Linked DNA regions of Homo sapiens: region 2 is linked to region 1. Evidence: fine-mapped expression QTL. A gene starts in region 1. The other region holds a variant in brackets. All regions are shown on one strand. Distances are from middle to middle. Region 1 holds the start of CD99L2 (CD99 molecule like 2). Region 2 overlaps CD99L2 (CD99 molecule like 2).

Region 1 (5,368 bases):
AGGAGCACACTCTTAAGGTCCCATATCATCACCTGCTAATGTTCATCCTTGCCATGGTTCAATCTGCTAGAACGGAGGTCAGTAAACTTTTTCTGTAAGGGTTAGACAGTAAATATTTTAGGCTTTGTGTGCCCCATGGTCTCTATCACAACTGTTCAACTCCACTGTGGCAGCACAAAAGCCACCATAGGGAATACAAAAATCAATGGGCGTGGCTGTGTTCTCATAAACTTCATGAACCCTGAAATTTGAATGTTGTATCACTTTCTCATGTCATAACATTCTTTTGATTTTTTTCAACCATTTAAAAATGCAACCACTACTTTTAGCTGGAAGGCTGAACAAACAGGTGGGAGTAGGATTTAGCCCACGGGGTGTAGTTTGAGAACTATTCTTGAGCTAGAAGACAGTCTTATTGCATATGGCATTGTAGCACCTTTAGCAGCTAGAGTTCCAGTTGAGTGTGACTGTCCACTGCATATTGATTGACATGGCCTCAAACTTAAGAGGTTACATGCTTCTCACCTCCTCAGTGTAGATGAGTGTGTATGCATCAGGGTTTACCCATCAGATCCTGGAAGACTCCTAAAGACCAGAAAATCTACTGCCCTCCAGGTACAGATGGTACCACCAGGGCCTATGGAATGGCTCAGGGCACTTAGTAGCAAAGGTGGGGGCATGTCCACAGCCTGGAATAGACAGTAACCTCCTGACCTCACAGTGGCCACTATTTCCTTAGCCGTTACTAGATTAACCAGTAATGGTCCCTGCCCTCTGTCACTGTGTGCAGGCTGTCCACTTTTCACCACCTCATTTAATCCTTAGCACAACCTTGTTGGGTTTAGCCAGGATTTGTACCCGGTCTGGCTCTACAGCACACATTCTTAGCCATTCACCAGCTGGGGTTCCTAGTGGTACCCTCCCCCTTTGACACATGAGACTAGACCTGGCTAACTCCCCAACCTCAAGGAACCTCCATTTTGCTGCTTTTCCCTCGTTAATAGGTGATGATACATAAGGCATTGTGAGGAATAAAAATTAAGGGTAAAATGCCTGGAATATGCCATGTGTATAGTGTGTGTTCAATAACTACCAGCTATTTCTGTTAATTCTACAGCTAGAATGGAATAATGTTCCATTCATAGAGTAATTAATGCCCTGAGCCTGGGAAGATCCACTCCTCATATGCTGTTTTGTTTCTGCAGCCCTAAGATTCAGGGCAATGGATGTAAGCCACACGGGAGATTTCGGCTCCATCTCAGGGAGACCCCACACCCCACTGTTCCTTAGGGGTTGGTGGGAGCCACTGAGGGGGGTGCCTATGGCAGCGAGGGCTGGGTTGGGGGCACAGGAAAGCTGCCGAATGGATATTGAGGGGAGGTGGTAGTAGCCGCCCTCTAAGGAGGATGTGGCCCTGGGCAGCCGGTGCCGCATAATGGCAGGGACAGGCTCACGCTACCACTCCGGAGAGCAGTAGCGCTTCCTCTTTGTCTTCGAGAGCCGGTTGCAGCTGGGGCTCTTCTAGGGAGCGTTCCCATCAACTGCTGCAGCGGGCATTTTGCTGGTCGGCACAGTATCGTATCGGAATCTGATTTCTTCGGGTCTGGGAGACGGACTCCGTTTGCGGGGGTTCATGGGAAAGGACTGCAGCGCGTTTGTCGGTCATTAAGCACGTTTTTGAGATCGACTCTGCAGATATGAACTTGCACTTTCAGCGCATTCATCAAAGCCTCGGGAGAGCTGACCCAGTCCCTACCCCCAGTCTCCCGAGCCCGCGGCGCTTCGGCTCCGGGACGCCCCCATCCTCCCCTGTCGCCCACCCGGGCGCCCCCGGCCTCGTTTTCTCGAGACGTGTCACTGCTTGTTGACCGCAGCCAGTCACGAAAACGGTCCTTTTCTTCAGTCTCCGGCCAGGGTTTCACTCCTGCAGGGAACAGCGGGTGGGGACAGAGTGCGGGGCTCCGTGCTGGACGGTGTCTGGAGGGGCCCCAAGGGAACAACCCTTCACCGGGAGAACACCAAGGCCAGAAGGGGAAGAGCCCTTCTCAAGGTCACCCGGGAGGAAATCGGCGCCCACCGGCGCTGCCGCCTCCCGCTCCCCGGCACTGGTGACTCACTGCTCCAGGTCCGCGGGGCCACCTCCGAGACTTCGGTCTCGAGGACCGAGGTGGGACAGGGTCTGCGGACCGCGCGCTGCCGCTGGACCCAGCCCAACCCAACCCAGGCCTCCCCACCCACCGGGTGCCCGCAGGCCACGCCCCTCGCCCGGAGCCCCGCCTCCAGAACGCGGCCCCGCCCCCGATACTGCAGCCTCGCCCCGCCCCCCGGCCTAACCCCAGCCCAGGCGCCCTCAGGCGCCGGCTCTCTAGCGCGCCCGACCTCCATCTTCCCGGGGCCGCGCCGCGCGCGCGCGCGGGCTTTGGGCGGGACCCTGCAGAGGCGGCGGGGCTCCTCCTCCCGCTCCTCCTCGGCCTCCCCTTCGGGCGCTCTCGCGCTAACTGTGCTCCTCCGGGGCCCTCCGCCTGCTCCCAGCCATGGTGGCCTGGCGCTCGGCGTTCCTTGTCTGCCTCGCTTTCTCCTTGGCCACCCTGGTCCAGCGAGGTAAGGCGGGCGGGGGGCGCGCGGGGACCGCGCGGGGACCCCGCCTTGTGGGCCCAGGGGTCGCTCTGCGCATGAGCGGCACGGTCCCCGCCTCTCGGGCCTGCGGTGGCTGCCACCGGCCGGCCCGGCTGTGCGAGGCGGAGCGGCGGGGGTCCGAGCCCCGGGCCCGTGGGGGTTGACTCCGCCGCGGTCGGAGTAGCCGGAGAGGAGGGGTGGGTCCCCTCCTGACGCTGGGCTGGAAACAGCGGGATGGGCCCCCTAAAATCCTGAACGAGCAGGTGTACCACTGGTGACAACAGCTGTCCCCAAGAGTTTACCTTTGAGAAAACCTTGAAGAGAGCAGTCATTTTCGAAATTTGCTGCGAGGCCACCGACAGCAGAAGCACCTGGGGAACTTCCTAGGTGGATTCCTAGCCCCTTTCATCGGGATCACAGCGGGCATGGGCTGTGGGGGGGGGGGGGGGGGGTCAGCGAGGCGTAGGTCTAACCAGCTCTCTAGGTGCTTCTGCCGTCCGCTTCAGTTTTTGAGACTTTGGTCATGTTTTGCCAAGGAGCAGGAGAGAGAAATCCCGCTGAATCAAGGAAGCACGTTTCTTAGACCCTCTGCTACTCAAAATGTGGTCCAGGGCCCAGCCGCATAGGCATCACCTGGGAGCTTGTAAGAACTGCAGCATCTCACGCCCCGCCCCCGACCTACTGAGTCTGATTCTGCATTTCAACTAGATCCGCGGGTGATTCTCTGGCACATTCAAGTTTGAGAAGCATCTTAGTAGAATAAATGCAGTCTGTGGTTAAAAATAGGGTCTTAAACATGTACCAACAGAATCTTCTTACACTTATTTATATCCTATGTCCCCATCAGAAAAAGGGATTAAGGGAAACACTGTAATTGAACGTGAATTATGCTCCAAGCTTCCTGACAATAGAAGCGAACCCAGCTGGTGGAAAATATGTGAGCTCAGGAAACACACACACACACACACACACACACACACTTTGTCCTAGTACTGAGTTCTAGTAAGATTTATGTCACATAAAGGAACACTGGAAAACAGTGGATGGTACTAGCCAAGCCACTTTTGCAAAAGATGCAGAAATGTTTTTCATGTGGGCAACCCACCTGGAGTTGATTCACGAAGAGCCATTTAACATTCTGCAGAGGTGCCAGGCTCTGTTCTAGGAACTGATGATGCGGTAGTGAACAAAATTGAGACTGTCTTCATGGAGCTTACATCCTGGTCCGGGCAGAAAACAAGCCCAACATTGAAATCTATATATATTGTCAGTGCTATGGAGAAAAATAAAGGAAGTTACAGGGGTAAAGAGTTGTTGAATTTTCTTTTTCATTTTCCCTTTGGGATAAAATTTTTATTTTGTTTACAATGCATTTGTAGGAAAATGTATGATCATTTGATTGACTTGCATCTAATGACATGGAAATCTTGAAAGTAGAAGCACAAAAAAAGTTAGAAAAATGATACTCCCTTCAAAGCTGTCTTCTGAAAGTCTTCAACATGGTGTGCCCGTTGAGAAGGTGGGGAATAGAAATGATTGGGTCTCAGATTTGCACGTTACAATTGTTGATTTAAGAGGTGGTAGAGGAGACAGAAACAGTACATCTGTTTTATAGATGAGGAAACAGAGGCACAGAGAGGTGAAGTAACTTGCCTTAGGTCACACAGCGATTGCCAGAATTATGATTTGATGCAAGGCTTGTCTGACTGCGCAGTCACTGCCTTTAAGCCCTAGGCATATGCCCTTGCACCTGGAGGTACCCCACTTCGACTACTTAGGGACCATGGGAAAATGAGTTCCCCGAACTTGTTTGATCATCCATATGATGCCTGACAATCACAAAGGTGTTTTGAGGGGACCAGGCTTAGATCTACAGCCTTGCTACCAGCTACCATCTCCTGAGTTCTTCCTGTGTGCCAGGCACTTCACATATATTGCTTTAAATTGCCTCGACAATTTTGCAGGCTAGATATTATCACTGGCTTTCAGATGAGGGGGCCCTGGTCATATAGCTCAGAAGACATAGAGCCAGGATTCAACCCAGATAAGACTGCTACCCAGTTATCTTTTATTGTTTAAATTATTTTTAATTAATTAATTAATTTTTTTGAGACGGAGTCTAGCTCTGTTGCTCAGGCTGGAGTGCAGTGGCCTGATCTCGGCTCACCGCAACCTTCGCCTCCTGGGTTCAAGCAATTCTCCTGCCTCAGGCTCCCAAGTAGCTGGGACTACAGGCATGCGCCACCATGCCCGGCTAATTTTTGTATTTTTAGTAGAGATGGGGTTTCACTGTGTTGGCCAGGCTGGTCTCGAACTCCTGACCTCGTGATCCGCCCGCCTCGGCCTCCCAAAGTTCTGGGATTACAGGCGTGAGCCACCACGCCCAGCTTATTGTTTAAATTAATTAACTGAAACCAGAAGCAGCTTTGGTTTCAAGATAAGGGCCCAGTTTTCTGGATCTTTTTTTTTTTTTTTTTTTTGGAAACAGAGTCTTGCTATGTCGCCCAGACTAGAGTGCAGTGGCGCGATCTCGGCTCACTACAAGCTCCACCTCCTGGGTTCACGCCATTCTCCTGCGTCAACCTCCTGAGTAGCTGGGACTACAGGCGCCAGCCACCACACCGGCTAACTTTTTGTATTTTTAGTACAGACAGAGTTTCACCATGTTAGCCAGGATGGTCTCTATCCCGTGACCTCATGATCCACCTGCCTCGGCCTCCCAAAGTGCTGGGATTACAGGTGTGAGCCACCG
Region 2 (5,368 bases), 130 kb after region 1:
ACTGTGCTAGAGAAGCAGGGAAGCACAGAGGCGTCTGCTTCTAGAATGTCCGGCCAGAGCAAAAGCCTGCCCTGATGAGCCTGCCTCCCAGTTTCAGGAGCCCAAAGATGCTGGGGTGACAGCCAGGGCCATCTGCTGCCATGCCTGTGACTTCTGGGCATTGCGGCTGCTCGGCCCCTGCCCTTGATTCGTCCGTCCGAGCCAGAGCCCCAGGCACCTCTGCTCCCCATCAGCGAATACAATTACATCCTGAACAGAGCCATGGGGAAGCTTTTCACCTAGACCTAGAACTTTTCCCTTTGCAAATTGCCACAGGCAAGAGGGAACTTGGGTAAAACCCAGACCCTATTGTCAACACCTGTGCCCCTCCCTCCCCCTTCTGTGGTCATCAAGCACTTTCTGGATTCAGGAGCTGTTGGCAATTTGAGGTCGCATAAGTTCAGGCCACAGGCCTAGAGTGCCCAACTGCTCGAGGCAGATATGACCTGTGCCCACGGGATGCCAATGAGGAGGTCCGGAAAGGCTTGCTGGGGTCGGGGAGCAGCCGAGGCCTGGTGGCGCAGGCAGGGAGACTAGGACAGCTCAGGCGAGTGTTGCCAGTGGAACTACAGTGCAGCAGCCGTGGGGACTGGGCCTGGGAGACCAGGAGGGGCTCAGCCTGTGTGGTGTGTACTGGGAGCCAGGTGCCCTACAATGCTGCTGAAGACGGGTGGCAGTGCTGCACCAAATGAACTAAAATAGGCCTGGGTTCAGATGTGGAAAAATGGATTCCGCTGTCGCATCCACTGTCATGAGCTTTGCCACGGTTAGCCACCACGAGGCCAGCATCTGTGTGGGCAGGTGCTAGGTTGAGCCCTTTGTTTAAAATAACCCTTCCAGCAGCGCTGGCAGGAACACGCTCATTTTTTAGGTGAGGAGATGGAGGCTGAGCTGTTTCCAGAGCCTGTCCAGCTTTCTCTTTCTCTCCCCTTGACCGGCCCAAAACTGCTCCCAGGCTCAGGAGGGAAGGTTGCTAAGCGGCCCCCCAGGGGATACAAAGGGAAACCCAGTTCTGTTCCCAGCACGGGCTTGCTGCTGTATTTGCTTCTTCTGTGCAAGACAGAGCAGAATTCCTTCTGACGGCCTCTTTTTCCCCTAGTGAAATACTCCACGTTGCACACGCAGTCTGCAGAGCCGCCGCCGCCGCCCGAACCAGCCCGGATCTGAGGGCCCTGTCCAGCTGCAGGCATGCACAATGGTGCCACCGCTTGTCACCCGGCTCCCCCCACCCCTTCATTTGGACCCGCAGCTGCTGTGCTGCTCTGTGCCATCGGCTCCTTGTTGGTCTGAGTTTCCCGGATGAGCTCTGGGTGTTTGTGAGTTTGGTTTCTCTGCCCTGCCCCAAGCGTGCTGAGACTTGGTGCCGAAATTCAAGAGCCAGCTCTGATAGAAAGCCAGCACCAGCCTCGGGAGCTGCTGAGCCACCAACTCCCAAAGCCAGCCTGCCTCCAGCTTTACTGAGCACAGGATGCGGGGGCCAAGATGATGCTGAGGCCTGATGACATTTATGCTTAGGGGACAAGAGTTTGAACTCAAGGGACTGTGACCCCTGCACACTGGAGTGGCTCATTGTGGCAGGTTTCTGCCAATAGACAGCCCCTGACAGTGGCCTCAAGGAGCTGCAGGTGGGGGGCTCAGCCTGCACCCACTTGGAGCCCCTGCAAGGAGCGAACCGGTCAGCACCAAGTAACACCACACACACGCAGCACCCAGGATGATGGTTTCACTTCAGTCTTCCCCATCCCAGGTTTTATGTTGCTGGGCTTCCGGAGAGCCGGTCCAAGCGGAGGCTTTCAGTGATTTAAGTACAAACATGCATCTCGTGATAGTCCTGCCTTGAGAGCTTAGGAATCTTCCGGATAAGTATGAAGCAATTCGTAGGCCTGTTTCCCATCTGATTCCATAGGGGGCTGGGTGTGGCCTTC[G/C]GGTTGACATGAGAAAGGTCTTTAGCAATCATTTCTGCACCGGAGATGAGTTTTATCCTGTGTTGGGGAGAGGTGCTCACCCTCCACCCTGTGTCCCTGTTTTGGTAGCAAGAGTGACCGATGTCAAGAACGAGCATCAAAGCCAGAATCCTGCTTGTTTGCTTAAAAATGTAATTGGGGGCGGCGGGGGAGGAGAGGGGAAAGAGACATTCGCTTGGTTTAGTGAAACGCAGGTGACTTTGTAGCTCTGTGGTCAGCCTACTTGTCTGCTCTGAGGGAGAGTGCGTGGGGAGCCATGCTCACCGTGGCAAACACAGGAACCCCATGACTCGCCCCTCACCTGGCGTGGAGCTGCCTGGTTTGGGCTGGAGCAGAGCTGGTTTCCTGGAATGTTCCTTTGGCCCACATATGGTTCTGTCCCGGTGAGCTCTGTTGTCAGAGGCTCACGGGACAGAACCACATGCTAGGGTCTAGGGCCCCTGTCTACTGATAGTCAGTTTGCTGTGTCAGAAAGCACTTCTGAAAGCAGATATGAGTCACCAGACAGGCAGGATCTTACAAAACTCACGGGCCTCTTTGGTCTGCATGATGGCCCCATGCGTTTCATAGGCTGTCCACTGAGCGGGATTGTCTGCTGAGTGGGATGAGCCAACTCCAGTTTCTTAAGGAAACCACTGGAATCTGCAGCCCCCACATGCATCTGTCTAACGCATGCCTCGTGTTCGTTTTGCAAACATGCCTGTGGTGGAGGGTGGTCAGTTGTAGCCCTGTGCGTCTCAAGGCTGCCTTGTGAGGCCATTCCCAGTGCGTGCCCTTGAGCTCCTTACCACCCCTTTTCCTGCTCGGCCCTTTAATCCCTGACAGACCTGGACTGTGTGGCTGAAGGGGGACCTGCAGCACTGCAGAAATGCCTCTGCGTGGTGCCATGAAGGAAAGAAACCTTGGCCTGGTCTCGAGAAGCTTCCCATGCTTCAGGAAGTTAGTAAGGGTGGGGTGGCTTGCAGGATTGGCCTGTTTCCAGGGCCTCCCACACTCATTGGCCAGATTGTGAACTTTGTCAGGCTTGTCCCTCCCTGATACCAAGTATGTCGAGAACCGATGGCCCCACCCTCTGGCTGGTGCTGGGCCGGAGGTGGCTATGGAGGATTTTGGCATGCGTGGCCTGTCGCCACCTGGACAGCGTGACCTCAGGGGTTGTCCACTTTACCTTTATGGTGAGGCCTGTCGGATGGCTAAGTCCTTGAAACCCTAGAGCTGTGACGTAGAATATGTGCTGTCTGTGAGACCGTGTTCCCAGGAGCACTGACTGCAGTTGAGAGAGACCCATTTTGCTCTCCCTTACCGCCCCCCGCCCCGGGTGCTTTCTGCACAAAGCCTAGAGCCTGGCACTCAAGCCCACCGGTGGCAGCTCCTAGTGACTGGACATGCCTGGAAGACCCCTCAGCCTTCTGTTTGCAGAACGTTCATTTCAGGAGCTTCTCCTTCCCACAGACATCTTACACTTGCTCGACACTGCCACCTGCAGAAGCCTGGCGGGCTCTGGTCACCATGTGTCTATCTGAAGGTTGCACTGGCCAGCATGGGCCTGTCCCAAGCGAGAGGGGAGACACAGTGGACTGAAAGGACTGGTTGAAAGTGGCCAATCTCTATCAGCTTAATTTGGCAGAGAAAATTTGTAACAACTCTGAGCACATGCTGGGTGAAGTCACAGCTCAAGGAAAGATAAAGCTGGGCGGAAGGAGGTGTGCGTGGCTTCTGGGGTGGGACCCAGAGGGGAGGCTCTGGGACAGGGGCTGGGGTTCAGTGCCAGGGCCCTGAGGAAGAAATGGGGACTGATCTCAAAATTCCAGAATTCCCTGTACATCTGTTCACGTGCTTGTGTCCAGGTGTGACTTGTAAACTGTCTAGTGTTTGCATTAAATAAAATGGCACCGAGCAGATTCTTGTCTTCTGATGGTGTTAAGGCACGCCCTTGGTCAAGTGTTGCCACTTTTCCCTAAAGTAAGTAATTTATGATGCAGAGCTGCCCTCCTCCCCCTCCCCCCGCCCCGCCCCCAGCTGAAGGTATTTCTCGAGAAGCTTAGAATTCTTGCATTTACCCCTCAGTGACTGGCTCAGTGTCAGGACTTCCAAGGGTGACTCCTCACCGTACAAGCAGCTAAGGCCAGGGGATGTGGAGCGACCAATGTCCTGGGGTTAGAGAGGGCAGAGGCAGGAGCAGAGTGCTGCGGGGCCGCTCCCGGGCTACATGGGTTGCGCAGTCCGGGGCCTGGAAGCAGCAAAAAGTCCCAGGCTCACAAATCCCAAGTCGACTGCTCTGCCGCCTTCCAAGCAGGCTGGTAACCAGTGGAGGTTCCAGTTAACGCGCAGTTGTTTTTCAACCAGAAAGCTGGGTGAGAAAGGAGCCCTGCACCTCGTCACTTGTTGCAGCCTCATGGAGAGTGGCCCGTTTGGGATGAAGTATGTCCTTCTCATCAGCTCGCATGTTGGCTTCAAATTGAGAAGACGACAGTTCAGTTCAGGGCATTTCAGCATGAAAACAAACAAGATGCAGTGGACCCTGGGTTTTAACATGGAGGTCGGTTGTTTGTTTTTTCATTTTGTTTTGCCAACCTCGGCTTCTAGTGAAATAATAGCATCAGGTCCTCTCAAACCCGAGACCACCATATGCCTGTCTCGTGCAGGAGTTCTGCATGGCTAGCTGCTATGGTCTCACTGCTGGGGAAGGCTGGCTGGCAAGCAGTCCCCTGGGCATCCTCTGTGCCCAGTGAATACCGGGCTCTCTGGCTCACTCAGTAGTAACGTGTGTGGAGAGGGACAGGGACCCCACACCCTTAACAAGAAGACCGACAACACACAGAGGGCACAGGGGGTGGTGTGATTTCATCCAGGCCTTCGTGGCCCTGAAAAGGTGAACGCCCCTTCCTTTGGGGTGGGGGCAGTCTGAGGCCTTAGAGAGCACTGCACTTGCATGCGAAGGACTCATCACCCTGACTGGCTCCTCTCAGGTGTCTCCAGACCTTTCCCCAAGTCGTCCACGTTTTCTCAAGGTTAGAGCTGAGGGCGTTTCTGACTTTACAATCATCAATCAATCAATCAATCAATCAATCAGTATTTCCTGTTTCAGCCAAAATACTTACTTACTTACTTACTTACTTACTTAAGACTCATGATACATTTACAATTTACTGAATGAATTAAATCACATAAAGTTAGTTACTTTACATCATCATATATTAACTGTGCTTGACGCACAGTAAACATTCAATCCATGTTATTTTATTACCGATTTTCCTCAAAGGAAAAATCTACTAAGATACTTACTTACTTACTTAAAAAAGACCAGGGAGCAAACATATGATCATTTTAATTACAGATGATTGAAATACAGTGCAACAGATGAG

The links. PIP is the estimated chance that this variant, and not a neighbour inherited with it, causes the effect.
Region 2: its variant is fine-mapped to the expression of CD99L2 in whole blood (TOPMed, PIP above 0.99). The same link has a PIP of 0.9 or more in monocytes.

Annotation. Positions count from the first base shown.
Region 1 is chrX:150,895,755-150,901,122 of GRCh38, reverse strand. CD99L2 (CD99 molecule like 2) reads left to right here and starts at 2,455. Exons shown (of 11, transcript NM_031462.4): 1 at 2,455-2,601. The coding sequence starts at 2,535. RefSeq lists a silencer at 2,171-2,780.
Region 2 is chrX:150,764,872-150,770,239 of GRCh38, reverse strand. CD99L2 (CD99 molecule like 2) reads left to right here. Exons shown (of 11, transcript NM_031462.4): 11 at 1,139-3,904. The coding sequence ends at 1,206. It overlaps MTMR1 (myotubularin related protein 1), which reads right to left. Exons shown (of 16, transcript NM_001306144.3): 16 at 5,132-5,368. Among named protein-coding and RNA genes, the nearest start is that of MTMR1, 74 kb to the right of the region's middle. RefSeq lists a silencer at 2,443-2,552. The variant G/C (reference allele first, on the strand shown) is at 1,965.